Homo sapiens: one gene and its partners. The protein of the gene in region 3 binds, or shares a complex with, the protein of the main gene of each other region. Each region holds a gene or a part of one and is shown on either strand. Other genes may lie near its edges. A codon is read from its position in the direction of its gene.

The links. The genes of interacting proteins can lie anywhere in the genome.
Region 1: the proteins of CUL3 (region 3) and KLHL3 are in contact, whole or in part, in a crystal structure (PDB 4HXI), measured with the Homo sapiens proteins. Residues at the interface, in NP_003581.1 of Homo sapiens: Ile44, Asn49, Ser50, Gly51, Leu52, Ser53, Phe54, Glu55, Leu57, Tyr58, Arg59, Tyr62, Thr63, Leu66, Lys68, Met118, Asp121, Ile122, Met124, Tyr125, Arg128, Val129, Gln133; in NP_059111.2 of Homo sapiens: Pro73, Tyr74, Ala77, Met78, Asp82, Met83, Ser84, Glu85, Glu92, Ile93, Lys94, Asp95, Pro125, Ser128, Leu129, Gln131, Met133, Arg136, Asp160, Val161, His162, Thr163, Thr165.
Region 2: the proteins of CUL3 (region 3) and KLHL22 are in contact, whole or in part, in a cryo-EM structure (PDB 8K8T), measured with the Homo sapiens proteins. Residues at the interface, in NP_003581.1 of Homo sapiens: Thr14 (codon at 2,609), Arg17 (codon at 2,600), Ile18 (codon at 2,597), Arg19 (codon at 2,594), Ala20 (codon at 2,591), Phe21 (codon at 2,588), Pro22 (codon at 2,585), Met23, Met25, Asn49, Ser50, Gly51, Leu52, Ser53, Phe54, Glu55, Tyr58, Tyr62, Leu66, Met118, Asp121, Ile122, Met124, Tyr125, Arg128, Val129, Gln133; in NP_116164.2 of Homo sapiens: Asp73, Tyr74, Arg76, Gly77, Met78, Gly81, Gly82, Leu83, Lys84, Glu85, Leu92, Ile93, His94, Leu117, Gln121, Val125, Cys128, Gln129, Gln131, Pro133, Trp146, Glu150, Asn151, Asp154, Val155, Arg157, Leu161, Phe162, Asp163, Ser165.

The regions. Positions count from the first base shown.
Region 1 is NC_000005.10:137,616,984-137,621,102, reverse strand, and holds the end of KLHL3 (kelch-like protein 3), read left to right. Parts: 3' UTR 1-3,603; downstream 3,604-4,119. UniProt on the Homo sapiens protein: Substrate-specific adapter of a BCR (BTB-CUL3-RBX1) E3 ubiquitin ligase complex that acts as a regulator of ion transport in the distal nephron.
Region 2 is NC_000022.11:20,492,780-20,499,646, forward strand, and holds the start of KLHL22 (kelch-like protein 22), read right to left. Parts: upstream 3,017-6,867; 5' UTR 2,981-3,016; intron 786-2,980; exon of another isoform or gene 480-785; coding exon of another isoform or gene 369-479; intron 363-368; exon of another isoform or gene 1-362. UniProt on the Homo sapiens protein: Substrate-specific adapter of a BCR (BTB-CUL3-RBX1) E3 ubiquitin ligase complex required for chromosome alignment and localization of PLK1 at kinetochores.
Region 3 is NC_000002.12:224,582,362-224,590,126, forward strand, and holds the start of CUL3 (cullin-3), read right to left. Parts: upstream 3,003-7,765; 5' UTR 2,649-3,002; coding exon 2,583-2,648; intron 1-2,582. UniProt on the Homo sapiens protein: Core component of multiple cullin-RING-based BCR (BTB-CUL3-RBX1) E3 ubiquitin-protein ligase complexes which mediate the ubiquitination and subsequent proteasomal degradation of target proteins.

The DNA.
Region 1 (4,119 bases), on a different chromosome or scaffold from region 3:
TATTCACAGCACCCCATTTTACTCAGAAGTGTTCTGGTCTGGAGGATAAATAAGAGGTCACCCTCCTCCAGACCCAAAGATAGATTTGTGCCTGTGTTGGATGGGGTCGTGTGTGATTCAGATGGACATTGGATGGCTTCAAAGGAATATACCACTAGAGCTGGCCCTTGGCACTTTGTGACAGTGGTCAAGTCTGTCTAATGTCCTTGTCTTCTTTTTCTTGTGCTTTCCCCCTATTCCAGGGTGTGCACCCTCTCCCCAACCCCCAAGAACCCCACTACTGCTTTCCCTGTGAGGTAGGAGATATCAGTGGGCCTTGGATTTGAGGCTTCCTAAGATGTGCTTGCATTTTAAAAAGGGAGCTTGGTGAGAGCTTTGCTAATTCACAGGTAAAAATTATTAACAATAGAACTTCAAGCATCTTGAGGAGCGGGCATTTGAGGGGGCATGGAGTAATTTGTATTTAAAAAACCTTAAAGTTGTGCTGTTCCTAAACTAGCAAATTGCTCATGCTGAAATTTCTGGCATAAGCAGGGGAAGTCTTGTGTCTGGAGAATAGTCTCATACCTTGCAGTCTGGGACACCCTCCCTACTTTGAGAATCCACCTACAGGAAGCCAAGGAACTTTATAAATCCTGATGTTGGACTTCTGATACGACTGGGCTACTTCCAAGCAGGTGCTGCAGGAGATTGGCATCCCCCAGCCCCTGCAGTTAGAAACCCCGAAGTCTTCCCAGCCAGTGAGCCACTTTGTGTATTTACTGTATATTTATTGTGCCCTAAATGTGCAACTCTCCTAAAGACAAAACTTCTCTTTCTGATGTTAAGCACATGTTACTTCAACAAGATGCTTGGAGAACAACAAGGTACCCAGAATTTTTAGAAGCCTTCAGAAGAGGCTAAAATATCCAGCTTTGGGGGACCTGGAAGAAATGTCTCCAAAGGAAGCAAGGCATGTTTTAGTTGAGTGCTCTGGTCTCACTATGAAGTGGGGATGACTGTGGCTTCATAACTCTACCTGGCTGTGGGTTGGAAGCTGATGGAATGAGAAATGTCCTTTCTCCTTCTCTGAGGAAATTTTGAGACTTGTTTCGGTGTGTCTGTGTGATGGGGATGAGGCTGGGGTTGGGATCTGATGTATGCCATTCACAGAAGCTCTCAATTTCAGATGATAGGTGAATTCCCTGCCCCTCCCCCACCACTGAGAAGCTAGACTTTCATGCGGGAGAGGCTACTTTTATGTGTCGTCTTCCGGGGAAGGGTCCCTCCACTGAAAGCTAGCCAGTCATGTTTTCTGTTTTTGGATTTTTGCAATTGGTTTCACCTCATGTCTCCCTCCCTACAAAGCACTGCCTCTACTGGGCGTGCTGCCAAGGCCATGTGCACTCCATCCTCATGTATCCTTTTTCACGGGGACCAGAACACTGGTACGTCATCACCAAAGCCAATCTGCTCTAGCTGCCCACAGATGCCACCAAAACCTGCTATCTCTTCATCACCAGGTACGATTCTCTTTCCACAGTGGACACAGCAGGCTATTTTCTAGTTTGTGCTGGTCACGTGGTAGATGAAGCCTCTTACTGCCCCACTTAGGGTGGCCACGGCTGCTTGTGAATGCAGCTTTGCCAGTGGCATATCTGTCATCTGATTGCGGTGGTGAAATGGAATTGAGGCCCAAGGTTAGAAGCAGCCGAGACGCCACTTGGATACTGATTTGAACAATGTAGAAGTCAGATTCTGAATTCCAAAGTTATTTCTCATAAGTACCCAATGGCATCTCTCCATCTACAAAGTTGCAGTATTATGCAAATAAAACTGACCTCATTTTCTGCTATGCAATAAGAATACTTAATTCTAGTTCCCGACAAGCCAGTTGCAATATCCCCTAAGATGCTTTTTGAGCTGTCTTACTTTGATATCTGTTGTGTAATGTTTGTATATTTCTGAGCCAGATCCTTTCAAAGATTGCCTTTTTATAAAATTGAAGCTATAGCTTTTAGGCTAAAATTTTAACGTAGATATTTTTATAAGATATTTTTTTCAAGAGTTTGAATCGCTTTTTATTGTCCATGATAATGAAATGTTGTGTTCTTTGCATCATTCACTCTCAAACGTAGTTCATGCCTGTAGCTCTCTTCCTTTTGTTTCTCACCCTTCAGAAACATATTTTTCAGTAGCTCCAGGTAGATGAGCCTTTTTTTTTTTTTTAAAAATACCATATTCAAGGGAGTCTGCTGAATTTTAAAACGCAGTCACTGGTGTTTCTTGAATTGCTAGGGACTGATGTTATGTTCGACTCAGCACTTGCCCGTCTGTATTGATTGTGTCTTTTTTTTTTTTTTTGGAGTCTGCTTTCTGTGGGGGTGAGGCCGGGCTGTCTCGTGGTGGCTCCCACTGACGGGCACTGAGCCTGGTACCCTGTGGCATGGAGAAGCCTCAGGGAAAGGCCTGCCCCCCCAGCACATACTCCCATAGTGTCCTAGGTCCAGCCGACCATTCCTTATTCTCTTCTATCTCCTTGTTGATCTGAAGCTTCCAATAGCTTGAGGCCTTTGCTGCTGGATGATGCCCTTTTTGGGAGCATCTTGTCTCTAACCTTTAAAAGAGGGGTCAATCCTCATGATCCCTGTGTGTTAAGCATATGCTTTGCAGGTGCTCACACTACACTTACAACTTGCTTCTTGAGCTATGTCTCTACTCCAGGCTCTGTTTTGTGTATTTATCTGCCATTTGCATCATGGTTTTTAAAATTTATTATTATTATTATTATTGTTGGGACAGGTGCCATTTAAATTGCCTCCATGCTCCCCATTTGCACCTAGCTGGATCAAGTTGGGAGGCTGAGCAAACTCATATTCCAGTTAGTTGGAGTTTTTAAAGGCTCTGTTTGCCTGGAGAAGCAAGGAGGTTAGAATGTAATTTTTTTAAGCGTTTGCACTATTTAGAGTCCTAAGCCCCTCATGTTCAGCTGTGCTGTGTTTCTACTGACCAAGCAGGAGAGCCAGCAGCACTTCCAGCATTTGGGAATGGAAGAGATTTCTTCTGTAGTGGATAATTACAGCCTCATAGCCCCTGTGCAGCCTTCGTCATGGGACTCAGTGACTCATGGATATAGCATCAGCCATGGCAGGAATGCACAGGACTGTGGCATTTGCAGCATCAAATCACCCTAGTGCCATGTTTGGTTATGAGATTGTAAATTATTCGCTCCCCCATCCTCCCCTCCCCTCATTTTCAGTGGCAATAGAGGACCCTTGTTGTACTTCTTGTTTAATTTGCATATTATGTGTAAAATGCTTTCGTTGAAAGAAAACTGAAGACACTGAATGTGTATGTCTGTGTGGGTGCTCTGTCCCTGTGGTTGTCATAGCCAGTCAGACTTGATCACTGACACCCCGTACAACATATTGCATAGGTAAGATCCTCGATCTGGTGTTCTCTGCGTGGCTGTTAGGGACTGTATATCTTGTAAAAGAACACTTGTCACATGCTTGATCAGTTACAGCAATAGCTGAAGAAACATTTCCTCAAATGTATTATTTTAACAGGAATCATGTTCTAATTTCCCATCCTTTAATTTTAATAAAAGCTGAACTGTGTGAACTTTTCTCAGTATTTCATTTCTATAGTCCAGTCTCTCTGCTATGTCTCAAACATGAAAAGGACAGACTTATTCCTGTATGTCTTTGGATTAAAAAAAATTTTAAGATCTACTGGACAATATCTGGGTTCCTTGGTTTCCATCACTCACCCTAGCAGAGTGCCAGACCCACAAAGACCTTCAATGAGGCCAAGAGAGGACAGTCCCTCCAGGGGGTATTAAGTGGTGTGCACAACTGCCAGATAATCACTGGGAACCACTGAGAGTCAGGGTTGGTGGGGAAGATGGCTAGCTCAGCTGGGCATCACCATTTGGGAGGGAAGCCTTGTATGAAGTGGGAGGGGGTGGATGCCTGGCTCAGCTGTAACTTCTCAAAGCCTCCTGCTCAGAGACCTTAGCTCCCTCTCTAGTTAACAAACCAGTCCCAGGCCCTTTTGGGATGTCAGTAGCTCTGGCCTGTACCAGGTGACAGATGGACAGCACAGAGGTGTTGGACTTATCTTCAAGCTGGAGAAACT
Region 2 (6,867 bases), on a different chromosome or scaffold from region 3:
TGGGGTTTCACCATGTTGGTCAGGCTGGTCTCGCATTCCTGACCTCAGGTGATCCATCTGCCTTGACCTCCCAAAGTGCTGGGATTACAGGCATGAGCCACCGCGCCCGGCCCAAACCTGCCTATTTACCCACGACAAGGAGATTCCGGCTTCTTGAGGGGTGAGGTTTTATCTCACAAACATCTCAAAAGCCCCCATGGCTGGCTGTACCACTTGCTAATGACAGACTCTGGGCACTTGTCTCATATACCCACGCCTCAGCTTTCTCATCACCACCATGACCACCGCAGAGTCAAGAGGGCCTCCTTCTCTGAGGGTGACCTCCACAACTACCCCAATAGACATCAAGCCCCCAGGTGGATCCTCACCTTCCGTGAGCATAGTAGTGCCTCTGCTCTCTTGGGAAGGGATAAATGGCAGCTACTCCCTAAACCCATACTGCAAAAACAAGTACGGTAAAACAGAAAGACATCTTCCATGGGCAGGCAAAGCACATTTACCAAGTCCAATTTAAGAAACTTAGCTAGGGGCTAAGGGGGATATGCTGAAAAATGAATCAATTCTCTGCTGGGAAGGAGCACAGCACAGGGTGCAACATTTAAAACATTTAAAACCACATCTATACGGTTTTAAATCACCAAAACGTCCACCCTCAGGAGAACAGATGTCATGGCACAGTGATCTGACAGAACATTAGGCAACAGTCAAAATGCGCAAAGTGGCCGGGCGCAGTGGCTCACGCCTGTAATCCCAACACTTCGGGAGGCTGAGGCGGATGAATCACGAGGTCAGGAGTTCAAGACCAGCCTGGCCAACATAGTGAAACCCCATCTCTACTAAAAATACAAAAAAATTAGCCGGGCATGGTGGTAGGTGCCTATAATCCCAGCTACTTGGGAGGCTGAGGCAGGAGAATCACGCCACTGCATTCCAGCCTGCATGACAGTGCGAGACTCCGTCTCAAAAACAAAAAAACAAACAAAAAAACAATGTGCAAAGTAGGCTGGGCACAGTGGCTCATGCCTGTAATCCCAGCACTTTGGGAGGCCAACGTGGGAGGATCACCTGAGGTCAGGAGTTCAAGACCAGCCTGGCCAACATGAGGAAGCCCCATCTCTACTAAAAATACAAAAATTAGTGGGGCGTGGTGGCGCATGCCTGTTATCCCAGCTACTGGGAAGGCTGAGGAAGGGGGAAGCTGAGGCAGGAGAATCGATTGAACCCAGGAGGTGGAGGTTGCAGTGAGCCAAGATTGTGCCATTGCACTCCAGCCTGGGCGACAGAGCCAGACTTTGCCCCCCCCCCAAAAAAAAAAGTGCAAAGTAGGCTGGGCATGGTGGCTCATGCCTGTAATCCCAGTGCCTTGGGAGGTCCAGGTAGGTGGAGTTCAAGACCACCTTGGGCAATATAGCGCGACCCTTTCTCTACAAAAAATTTAAAAATTAACTAGGCATGGTGGTGTACACCTGTAGTCCTGGCTATCTGGGGTGAGACAGCTTGGGGTTCACTGCAGTCTCAAGCTCCCAGGTTCAAGTGATCCTCCCACCTCAGCTTCCTCAGAAGCTGGAACAACAGGAGCTCACCACTGCGCCCGGCTAATTTTTCAAATTTTCTTTGTAGAGAAGAGGTTTCACTATATGGTGTAGGCTAGAGTGCAGTGGTAGGGTCTTGGCTCACTGCAGCCTTCATCTCCTGGGTTCAAGCGATTCTCCTACCTCAGCCTCCCGAGTAGCTGGGATTACAAGCACGTGTCACCACACCCAGCTAATTTTTGTATTTTTAGTAGAGACGGGGTTTCACCATGTTGGCCAGGCTAGTCTCTCCTGACCTCAGGTGATCTGCCAGCCTTGGCCTCCCAAAGTGCTGGGATTACAGGCATGAGCCACCGCGCCCGCCCCCAGTCTCATATCCCCAATTTTAGTCATCACAAGCCAAGTTCCCCGTTTTGTACTGTTCGAAGTTTCAGTGGGGAGAAGAAAGGAAGCTTAATGTGCCACATAGCTACAAACTGAAGGATACAAGATGAATTTTTATGAAGTGATGGATGGCAGAGTCAAAATCATTTCAGAGGAACTTTCAGTTCGGTACGATTTTACTGAGTAGATACCCTCAGCCTTCTGTAGGGCCCCCGAACGAGCAGTATCCCCTCAAAGAAACTCAATCCTTGGCAGCATGAAGCAAGGTCGGCCACAAAGGCAAAGGGGGCGGCTGCGGTAGAGGAGAGGGAGTGGGTGCTGATTCCCAGCGGGGCAGCCTTCCAAAGGGTGCGCTCTGGAAGAATCTCCCAGGGAGCCGTCTTGGAGGCACTCGGCCCCGCGGAGGGCCGGAGCGAGGGCGCCCAGTGAGGAGCCCAGGCGGAAGGTGGCGGTGCCCCGCTGCCCGCCCCAGATCCACTCGGCTCGGCCCGCACCGGATCTAAAATGGTCAGAACTGGCAGCCGACGCTTCGCGCTCTGGTGATTTTGCACTGACAGCGCGATCTCCGGCTCCTCTCAGGAAACCGGGAGAGCTGGCAAGGCTGGGCTCCTACGGCTGCAGTCCCCGGGCCCGATCGAGGGAACTGAGGCTCGTCAGGCCGGCCCCAAATCGCCCGCCTGTTGCAAGGCCGCCCGCTCCAGCGCGGAGGGTCGCGGCCAGGAAGGCCGCATTCGGACCTGCCGCAGGCAACAGGGCCCGCCCGGGTGCCAGGAGGCCGGCGCGCCAGCAGCCGCGCTGAGGAGGCCTCGCACCCTGGCCCCTGGCCGAGCGCCAGATCCCGGCCCCTACGCGCCCGCGCCCGGGGATCCCGCCGGCCGCGTCCCCGCCACGTCAGGCCGCGGGCTCTCCTCAGGTCGCCGCCCCCGAGCCTCCGGCCCGCGCCCGCCCCCGCGCCCCTCGGACTCCGCGCCGCTAGCTTGTCCCCGGCCCAGCGATGCCTGCTTGCCGCCCGACCCCCGCGTTCGCTGCCGCCCGGCCCGTTCGGCTCACGCCTCGCAGCTGACCTGGTGCCGCCGCCAGCCGAGGCCGCACTCGCAGCTGGAGGGAGGCGGGAGGCGGGAGGCGGGAGGCGCGAGGCGGGAGGCTGGGCGAGAGGAGCCGGCGGGGCGGGGGCCTGGGCCGTCACGTGGGTGCGCCGCGCAGGCGCCGGGCGGGCCAGACGTAGGCCCGGGGGTTCCCGGCCTGGCCGGGTAGCAGCGCGGGGGCGGCCCTGGGGCGGGGAGACAGGGGGCGGCTCCACTCCGGCGCTCTGCGGAGGACAGCAGCGATCGCCAAGGCTCAGTGAGTCCCCGCACTAGCGCGGCACCTGGCACTTGGCGGGGCCGAACCAACGAATGAGCGAATTTGCCGAGAGTCGCCCCGTCTGAATCCATTGACTCTTTCCTTGCCTCGGTCCTACCCTCATTCCTCGACTCACTTCCTCCTGCCCTTCCTCACTATCTCCCTCCCCGCTCATATCCTCCCTCTCCTTTCCTCATTCCCTTCTTCACTCTCTTCTCTCCTCTCTTACTCCCCCCCTCTCATTCCCTCCCTCCTTCACTCTCTCATTCCTTCCCTTCCTATCTTACCCACCATTCCCTTCCTCCCTCACTCATTCACTCCCTCCCTGTCTCCCCCTCTCATCCCCTCCCTCTCTCATTCCCTTTCCCTCCCTCCTTAACTCTCGTTCTCTCCTCCCTCTCTCATTCCTTCCCTCCCTGTCTCATTTCCCCCCTTCTTTCCCTCCCTCCCTCTCCTCTTCTCCCATTGCCTCCCTCCCTCTTTGATTCCCTTCTTTCCTCCTCTCCTCCACTTGTTCCCTTCGTCACGCGCTCATTCCCTCCCTCCCGCGGCCTGCTCCTTCCCCGCTCCCTCCGCGGTCGGTGCCGCTGACCGTAGCGCGCCCCCTGCGGGATATCGGGGAGAATCGCTTAACACCGCCAGAGTGAACAGGTGCTAGTTTGTGTGCCCGTTCCTTTACTGAGATTTTGCAGTAAATCTAATTCCCAGTCTTAAAGCCTGGTCCCAGAGGTCCGTGCGCGGGTCTTGGCATTCATTGTTCTCCACCTCACCTTCGAGCAGGTCCCATCCTCCGAGGCGTATCCGTAATGGCTGCGCCCAGAGCTTGGAGCCACAGAGCCTCCTGATGGGATAAGGTTGGAGTGTCCCACACTGTGGTTTTGAGAGGGACTGTGAAGGGTGGAGAGAGTGGTAGGGGGAGGATGTGGCTGGAGATGGCTCATGGTTAAAAAGAAAGGTGGGGCCGGGCTTGGTGGCTGGCGCCTGTAATCCCAACACTTTGGGAGGCCGAGACGGGCGGATCACGAGGTCAGGAGATGGAAACCATCCTGGCCAACATGGTGAAACCCCATCTCTACCAAAACACACACAAAAAAACTAGCCGGTCGTGGTGGCGCGCACCTGTAGTCCCAGCTACTCGGGAGCCTGAGGCAGGAGAATCGCTTGAACCCGGGAGGCAGAGGTTGCAGTGAGCCGAGATCACGCGCCACTGCACTCCAGCCTGGTGACAGAGCGAGACTCCGTCTCAAAAAAAAAAAAAAAAAAAAAAAAAAAAATTGGTGGAAGGGGAATGTAAAAGGAGGAAAATACACGGAAGAGAATTGCTGTCCTGGCTGAGTCCAGAGAGATAACTGAGGGTCCCAGACAAGGATCAAGAGAACGGGATTGGCCTCCAGAGGCAGAGGTTCCAAATGGGAGTGGGCTTCCTCCTAGAAAGACTTTCTGGAGGAGACCCCCCTACTGTGTAACAGAGGAGGACTTTGGGATTAAGAAAAGCATTCCAGGAAGCCGACAGTGTCAGCAAACGTGGAGGTGAGATCCTTCAAAGTGAGTGGTGTGGAGGTTTCCAGAATTTTCTGAGCCTGAAGGGAAGGTTGGAGAGCAGACCCTGCCCTTTGGAGGCTTGACTTAGCCCTGAGGGCACCCTGTAGCCAGGGTGGGCAGATGCCAATATGGTAGAGACGAAGACTGAGTAGGGAGCCAGCCACAGTGCTGTGGTCTCAGGCAGGGAGTGAAGACCAGAGTGGAGCAGGCTAGAAACCTGGGAAGGAAGCAGGTTCCCCAGTATAAGCCCAGTGATGTGTGAAGAATGAGCCCAGGAGATGGGTGGGGAAGTAGGCCCACCCTGCCTACAGGGGAGCCAGAGCAAGAGCAGGTCTGGGGGAAGATGAGGCCCCCCTTGGCTCCAGGTAGGGGAAGACTGACCTCCAAGGCCCAATGGGACCAGGTGTACGGGTGGACCCAGAGAGGAGAGGAAAAGGAATCCTGGGGCAGCAACAAGAAGGCCACTGTGGTCTGAATGTCGGTACCCCCAAAATTCATATGTTGGAACTGAATCCTCAGTGCGATACTATTATAAAGTAGGGCCTTTGGGAGGGGTTTAGGTCATGAGGGTGAAGTCCTCACCATGGGATCAGTGTATAAAAGAGGTTCGAAGGAGCTCATCCCCCACTTTTGCCAGGTGAGGACACTGTAATAAGCACCATCTTCAAGGCAGAGAATCGGCTGGGCGCAGTGGCTCACGCCTGTAATCCCAGCACTTTGGGAAGCCGAGGTGGGAGGATCATGAGGTCAGGAGATCAAGACCATCCTGGCTAACATGGTGAAACCCCATCTCTACTAAAAATACAAAAAATTAGCCAGGCATGGTGGTGGGCGCCTGTAGTCCCAGCTACTTGGGAGGCTGAGGCAGGAGAATGGCGTGAACCCGGGAGGCAGAGCTTGCAGTGAGCTGAGATCGCGCCACTGCACTCCAGCCTGGGTGACAGAGCAAGACTCCGTCTCAAAAAAAAAAAGCAGAGAACGGACCCCTCACTAGACACTGGGGCTTTTTTCTGAAGGCTACTGTGTCATATAAAATTTATATTAAATAAATTGATATGCTTTTCTCTTGTTAATCTGTCCTTTGTTAGAGGGGTGTCAACCAGGAACCTTGTGATGCGTGAGGAAAAAATATTACCTTTTCCCCCTACTCTTTCTGGCACCCAACAAACAAGTGGGGTGGCAAAGACACCCCACTTGGGACAACTGGCAAAAGGTAAGCATTCTTACCAAGGTTAACTGTCCCATATCACTGCCTGTAGTACTCAGCTGAGAGTGGAAGGTAAAAACTTCTTGTCCCTTCCTTTCCAAATTCAAATTAGCAGAAGAAAACATTGTGTCTGGATTGTGACTCTTGCTTAAATTTGGTTGAGGGGTAACTGTTTGTTATTGATCCTTTCCTCCCAGGCACAGCTACCTCTTTCCTGTTTGTTTTATTTGTGTCCTGAGAGCTTGGCTTTATGACCAGTGAGAATATTCTCCCTGATCTCTGAATAGCCAGTGGGTGCAAGTGACAGCTTGCTTTAGGACAGCTTGCGTTAGGGTTGCAAGTAACAGCTTGCATTATTACAAACTCCTCTGTCCCGGTCAGAAAAAGAGAAAGTTTGGTTTTTGTTTGTTTGTTTGTTTTTTGTTTTGTTTTAATAGTCTTGCTCTTTCGCCCAGGCTGGAGTGCAGTGGCATGGTGGCATGATCTTGGCTCACTGCAACTGCTGCATCCTGGGCTCAACTGATTCTTCTGCCTCAGCCTCCTGAGTAGCTGGGACTACAGGCACACACTACCACGTCCAGGTAATTTTTTTTGTATTTTTAGTAAAGAGGGGGATTCATCATGTTGCGCAGGGTGATTTTTTTTTTTTTTTTTTAATTCTTTTCTGAGACGGAGTCTTGCTCTGTCACCCAGGCTGGAGTGCAATGGCGGGATCTCGGCTCAGCCTCCTGAGTAGCTGGGATTACAGGCACCTGCCACTACGCCAGCTAATTTCTGTATTTTTAGTAGAGACAGGGTTTCACCATGTTAGTCAGGCTGGTCTCGAACTCCTGACCTCGGGTGATCTGCCCACCTCGGCCT
Region 3 (7,765 bases):
GGAATTTTGAAGGTCTATAAGCACACGGTTAGTAAGATAAATCTATGAAACACCCTAACACTGAGATATACATCTATCTGTAACAAAGGGCCATAAACTGTAATAGTTCTTTCCAATGGGAATCACTTAGGAATGTTATTAATACTTATTAAACAGTAATGAAAAATTCTTTTAGAAATCAGCAGCTATTAACTACTGAATACCAAAACTAGTCACTTACTTCATGTAAGGTTTTCAGAAAAACCTGCAAAAGTTATAGACAGAATGGATCCAAATTAGCTCATAATCATAACGAAGCTAACAAAAAAAAATTCAGTTCCAGTACTATGTGGTAACGTATCACACAACGTTATTATACTGGTCAGCTAAAGGAATAATGAAATTCTCTCCCACCTCTTCTCCCCAACAATATTAGCTCCAAAAGGCAGGGATCTTGGTCTTTCTAGCTATACTGACAGACCCCCAGAACAGTGCCTGGCACATAATATTCAGTATTTGCTGAACAAATTAAATGATGGCAAAACAGGTAAGAGCAGGGAAACCTGAAGAGGTCAAAGAGTTTAATTACACATACATTAACGTACAACTGGTCAATCAGAAGGCCATTAACTTGAGTGAGTTGATGTCAAATTTGAGTTACTCCACATTTTAGCAAAAAATCTTATTTAGAACATGAGACTTCAAGAATTGAGTAGTGTAAGGCTGCACACACTGCTAGAAAATCTGTTGTATATAGGCCTGGCGCGGTGGCTCACTCCTGTAATCCCAGCACTTTGGGAGGCCGAGGTCGGTGATCACCTGAGGTCGGGAGTTCGAGACCAGCCTGACCAACATGGAGAAACCTCGTCTCTACTAAAAATACGAAATTAGCCCGGTGTGGTGGCGCATGCCTGTAATCCCAGCTACTCAGGAGGCTTTTAACCCAGGAGGCGGAGGTTGCGGTTAGCTGAGATCACGCCATTGTACTCCAGCCTGGGCAACAGGAGCGAAACTCTTGTCTCAAAAAAAAAGAAAATCTGTTGTATACAACTATTAACTTCATAAAATTCTAAGTAATTCTAAACTCTAAAGTGGTCAGAATTTAGTAGGAAAATTAATATCACTCACAAATGCATAACCCAGCTCTGCCCAATTATAAGGGAAAACATACTAGTAAGCTTCGTTAGTACTCGCTTGTCAACATTTCTCACGTTTACTTAGAAAAAAGTTTGAAACATTCAAAAAATCTTTAATTATTATCAAAACACTTATTCTCCTAAATTCCATCGTACCTATTTACACAAAGCAGAGGTTTTCGCACACTGACTTTAGTATTTATGTTCTTACAATTTCAGAATTCTGCATGAGGTGTATCCTTTTAAATTTTAGGAATTCAGAGAGGTCCTCATGTTCTCTGAAACTAAATCACTTGACTCAACTGGGGCAATCACATCAAGGTAAGTCTTTCCTCACTGCAACTGCGCTTCAGGAAAAGCATGCTTTAAAAAGTGACAACAAATCCCCCTCTTTCGCTGGTACATCATATGAAGTATTTATGAATCTAAGAAGGGAAGACCAAGATCTTTCTCTAATTTTACTTTTTAAAATCTTCTGTCCGATTGCTAGTTCGTCTGTCTTGACGTATGCCTTTTATTGTAGCGACATAGGCAAGTATGCCCAGTTCGTTAACAGTACATTTTAATTGCTTGCCACGGGGAAGCTGAACCAGATTTGACACCCAAAGTTATATCCTATATACTAAACATCGCAAGGGTACGACTCAACGTAATGCCAAAAAAGAAAAAGTTTCTGAGCAGAACACGTTTGCTGTCACTGAAAGCGATGAAACAAAGCTACTCCGCAAGGCGACTACACTCATTCTTTGGGCTCCCAAGGCTGAGAAATGGAGAACCAATTGGCCGGTTTGCTCTCTGTTGCTTCCCCCCCACCCGGCCTTCCTCCGAGTGGCGAGGCAATCCTGCACAAGAGTTTGTAAAGTGCTTAGGAAGCTTGTAGGATGAAAGACGCTATAAATACACCCAATGTTACTAGTTTATGACCACGGAGCATTCCGTGGAACCACTGTCACTGCGTCGGGGGCAGGTTGATGGCATAGACCTTCCTGGGGAGGGGGGCAGAGAGAGAGGGCAGCCCCTTCATCACCCTAAAAGCTAGGCTGGGTAAATTTTCAAAGTGTAGCGAAACCCCACGTGAAAAGTTCCACACACGCCCCACACAGGGAGGACTCCGCGGCTGCTAGCAGCGCCGGAGACTGGGCCTACAACCCCGGCAACGTGGGGAGGCGTGGGGCGGCCGAGGGGCCCCGGCCGCAGCCGACGCCCGCGGAGCGGCTGAAGGAGCAGCTCCCGGACGGGGGCGCGGCGCCAGGCCCGGGCTCCCGGCGCGGGGAACGGCCCGGGAGGGCGGCCGCGCCGGGGCCCCGCGCCGCCCGGTTGCCGGGAAGGCTCGCGCCCCGCGGCCGGCGGGCGTGGGGGAGGGGAGGCCGGGCCTGCGGCCTGTTGGGGGACTTCAGCCCGGGCCTCGCGTGCGGCTCTCGGCCCGGCCCCCGGCCCCGGGGTCCCGGACGCCGAGGAGAGACTCACCGGAAAGGCCCGGATCCGCATCTTGGTGTCCTTCCGGCTGCCCGTGCCTTTGCTCAGATTCGACATGGTGCTCGTCCCCTCCCCGGCGGCGGCTTCAGGTCGCGCTCCGCGACGCCGGTGTCACATTTAAGGCGGGCAGGCAGGCTAGGGGCGACGCTGGGGGCGGCGGCGGCGCGACCCCCGGGCAGGGCTGGGGAGCTGGCCGGCCCCTGGGCAGCCGCGGCGGCGGCGGGGGCGGCGGCGGCGGCGGCGGCGGCTCGGACTCTGGCGACTCCGATGCGGCTGGGGGGCTGCGCTGGCGCGGCGGCTCCGCGGGGTCCCCCTCACGTCCGGCTCGGCTCCCTTTATCGCGCTCCTCCGCGATGGCGGCGGCGGCGGCGACGGACAAACATCTCACTGCGCAGGCCGAACGTCGTCCTCCTCCTCCTCCTTCTCCTCCTCCGCCTGAGCGAGACGAGATCCGGCCCAGAGGGTGGAGGGGGGAGGAGGGAGGGAGGAGAGCCGGAGAGTGAGAGATGCCGGGGGAGGGAGGTGGGAGGACGGGAGGGGGAGCCCGGCGGCCGCCGCGGGGGACGCTCAGATCTCGCGAGAAGAGGGCGAGCGCGCTGCCCCCCTGGTGGGCGGGGCGAAGCCCGGGAGAGGGTGGGCGCCACCGGAGGGGAGGAGGGGAACAGGGAACTGAAGGAAGTGGGAGGGGCCGGCGGGGCGGGGAAGCGGAAAGGGGGCGTGGCTGAGGGCGGGAGGATTAAGCTGCCTTTTTGAAAGTGGAGCGCCAGGTCCCGGGTTCTGGGTGGAGGTGGTTGCTGATTGGTGGAGCTCGGAGCGGCGGTTGGGAGGGTCCTGGTCACATGGTGGGGAGTGGGAGGGGGGAAGTTCGGAGAGCGGGAGCGGGATGGTAGTGGGCTGGGCCCCACTGGGCTGGGACAGCAGGAGGATAGTCTTGAGGAGGAGCGTGGGGTGCTAGATGTGTAACTACGTCCCGAACTGGTTCCTGTGTTTTTCTAGGGCATGTGGACTAGGGATGGGTACTTGAGTAGAAGCCTGCAACTTGAAGAGTTTGTGCAGGAGTTAGCTGCAGTGTCGGAAATTAGTGTCCTGTATGCTCAACAAGGTATTCGGACTGGGTGTGCACACCACAGCTCTCAGGACTGGAAGGTGGAAATTTAATCTACGAAGTTCCCTTAAACTGCATAAGCTTCGGGACCTCTTGATTCACTGATATTTTCTGGTGGACCCAGGGCTTATTCATGTTAAAACCTGTTTTTCATTACCATCAGAATAAACTGACAGCTCCATTAATGAAATGCAGCATTTGGTAAATAATGTTAAGTGGAATGATAGAAACCTATCTTTAACCTACCGGATAAATCATTTCTACCATTACCAAGAGTATTGTAGATTTTTAAAGCCAAAATTACCGTCTGATTCAGTTGCTGTATATTTGAAAAGGTTTTGGCTTTTGGTTTTGGAGGAGAGGCGTTTGGTCGCTTTATAGTCAAAATGTCTAATTTGACTTATCGGTTTTGCTGTCCATTTGTTATGAATTGTACTTCCTCATTTACCTACTTGCCCAATTGCTGTTATGTTTGGGTTTCTGACTCTGCAAGGGAATACGTGAGTTCTTATTAAAGTTTGTGTTCTTCCTATTTTAAAGAAGCATATGTTTGGGGGATGGATATCTACATTTAGAAGCTGGAATTTTAATACTTTTAAATAGCAAACAATATAAAGTGAAATACACTTATTTGTTGACTGTAAGGTTGAATTTGCCCTAAATTAACTTAATCCTGATGACTAAGCTTATGAGTGTTGTGCTTAAAGCCCCTTCTTGCTTAAAACGCCCCACTGCAAATACCATATTTTCTTGTTTTTTTTTTTTTTTTGTGGGAGTTTTTTGGTATTGGCTAATTAAAGCAGGAGCTTAAGAAACAAGAATGTTGCTTAAGACAATATCTGTAAATACTGAAGCTAAAAATAGGTTATCAAGAACTGAGTTGATAAACTAAGATTGGGAGAGGCTCTGACTTCAATGTAAGATAATGTCAGCCTTGAATAGGAGTTTATAATCTCTATGCTAATTGAACCTCCATTTCCATAACATAATATAATAACAAACAATGTTTTTCTCTTGGTTGTACTCTCATATGGCCCAGTTTCTTTGTAATGTAAGAATATATGTTCAGAATAGGGATCTCTGAGGAACCAAAAAAAGAAATAAAAAAATATTTTAAAAAAGAATATGTGTTCTTGGAGCCATTGTTTGAATCTCAATTCTGCCACTTTACTAGCTGTGTTTTGCATCTTTTGGGGCATGGAGTTGACAATCCCCAGAATTTCTCATCTGTAAAAGGGAGACAATAACAATACTTCCTCCTTGGGCTACCGTGAAATTTAAATAGATGAATACGTTTTAAAGAGCCCTGAGAACTGGGCATGGAGCAGCAACTTACCACCTGTTGGCTGTTATTAACATGGGCATTAAAGCCAAGGTTATACTACTTCCTTTATTCAATAGGTAGGTTTCTAAACAACAACAACAAAAAACACTTGTATGCTTTTATAAAATGAGTCATATTTTGAAACTAAGCCAGTCTCCGACATTTGGATCTCTCAGACTAATAAAATATTTTCTGATAAGCTAGGGAGTCATTATAGATTTGGCAACTTTATATTGGCAAGGGTATTAAAAAGGAACAACTAGCATAGATTATTCCCATCATTTATTAAAAAGTATTTTAACCTCAGAAATGAGGGAAGATCCATTTTTGAATAAAGGACAGTTCCTTGAATTGAACAGCCTCGTAATGAACAATACGTCACACGAATTTTTCTTATTTCACTGTGAACCTAAGGAGACATCATGGGCCAGCATTTAGAAACCCACTACATTAAGGTATGTTTCTACTTAATTGTAAAGCATATAGTAAGTATAGTAACTGTAATGTATTTGCTTTGTGAACCCAGATTTTCGTATATTGGTGTTGCTTAACCAAAATTTAGCTGCGTCTAAAAGCATCACTGTGAACTGTGTCTTCCCTTAAGCTTTTAACCACCAAGGATCAGAAAAATGCTTCAAAATGATTTTGTCATTAAGAAGTCTGCTCATTTATTTGTTCAGTTATTCATTTATTCAATAATTATTATTGAATGGCTACTGTATGTCAGGAACTAGGGTGAATGAGACAGATGGGACCTGCCATCACATCCTTTTTCACATCTCACAGTTTGTAAACCACAGACCCATATTGGATTTGGCCCCAACTTTGTATATGCTTCAGTTCTGAAATCAGATATTTTCCTTCCTGTGGAAGCAACATCCTCAGAATGTCTATGAAATACTTTCTGAAGCAGCAGTAGATTATTTTTCTGTGCCCAGTCATATTCCCTGACTTGCAAATAGCAAATAAACTTTCAGGATGTTGCTTTTCTGCAAACTGCCACCTGATCTAGCAGAGAAAGCAGCACTGGAATAGGAACTCACTAGATCTTGCATGGCTGGCGATTGGTATTCCTACTCATGCTGACAGTGTCCTGACACAGGAAAACAGTGGCCTCATTTCCATTTATTCTTTCCATTTATGCATATGGAGCACATGCATTCAGAGAGATCAGGCAGTTGGGTGGGCCAGCCCCTTTTCTACATCCCAGTCTGTGAAAGAGCAATATAAGATGTGAGGAGCTGGTAAAAGGAAGTAATAGCCTCTTCTTGACCATCAGTTTCTAGGTACTCGGGATACCAAGTCACTTTAATCAATGTTTCAGATCTGCTGATTTTATTGTACAGATATTGGTTGTTAAAACAGCTCAAAGCCTACAATTTCAATTTGAAAGACCCGTTCAATGGTTTTGAGTAGACCAAGACTATGTTAAGAGAGAGAAAATGTTTTTAAGTTGGAAGGCAAAGATGTATAGATATTATCAGCTCTTGGAATGGAAGGGCTAGATCTTCTACTTTCTTGTCTCTACCAGGCAACTAATAAGTATTATAGGCCATTAGATATGGAGTTGTATATATTTAGGGTAGTAGCATGTGTATGTGCATTATAAGATGACATTGTCGGCAAATACCCCATTGAGAACATAACCACAGATGCTTAAATATGTGAAAACTGTAGGCCTTCTCCATGCAACTTTTCTACTGTGTCCTTAAAATTTTTCTTATATTATTGAGACAAGAAGCATATGAGACACATAAGCATATGAGACGTTACATCTTAAACTAAAAAATGTTAAATGTCTGATTATATCATAAAAATCCATCTCAGTATTTCATCATATGGTCATACAAAAGAAAATCATCTCCCTGGCAGCTCTGGAAATGTTCTGGTTGGCTTGGACAGTCTGTTTATTCCACATGTACCCAATAAATTAACATTTTGTAAATAAAAATATCTATACAACCAACTAACCCAATTGAACATAATATAGATTCTCAATTTAAAAATATAGGCATGGCTTCTATGTAATCTTATTTCAAAGAAAAAGAATTTCTTCTTATTAATACCATTGTAACAGTAAATGTATCAAGAAACCTCTAGGGGACAGTTATGAGTATGTATTGCTTTCATTCATGACAAGTAAAATATATGTTGAAGTTTGTAACTCATCAGCTCTGTCTTTGTGAAGTAAGTTAATTTTGGAGTTGAGATAAAGCATTGTGCCAAAAGAGCTATAAAAATAATGGTCTAAATTTTATGTTAGATTTAGTAATTGTATGAATTATAAATACTACAGTGGACAAATGTAATAAAATGGCATTATCTTTTTTTTGTTTTTTGAAACGGAGTCTCGCTCTTTTGCCCAGGCTGGAGTGCAGTGGTGGGACCTCAGCTCACTGCAACCTCTGCCTGCTGGGTTCAAGCAATTCTCCTGCCTCAGCCTCCCAAGTAGCTGGGATTACAGGCGCCCACCACCATGTCTGGCTCCTTTTTTTGTATTTTTAGTAGAGATGTGGTTTCACCATGCTGGCCAGGCTGGTCTCGAACTCCTGACTTCGTGATCCACCCACCTCGGCCTCCCAAAATGCTGGGATTACAGATGTGAGTCACCGCGCCCGGCAATGGCATTATCTTTAAACTTCTTTAATAAGCTCTTTGTCTTCAGTTCGTAATAAAACTATATTCTTAACTCTTATATCTAGAACTGGTAGAAATCAGAATCTGAGAGAAGGAGCCCTCGTAAAG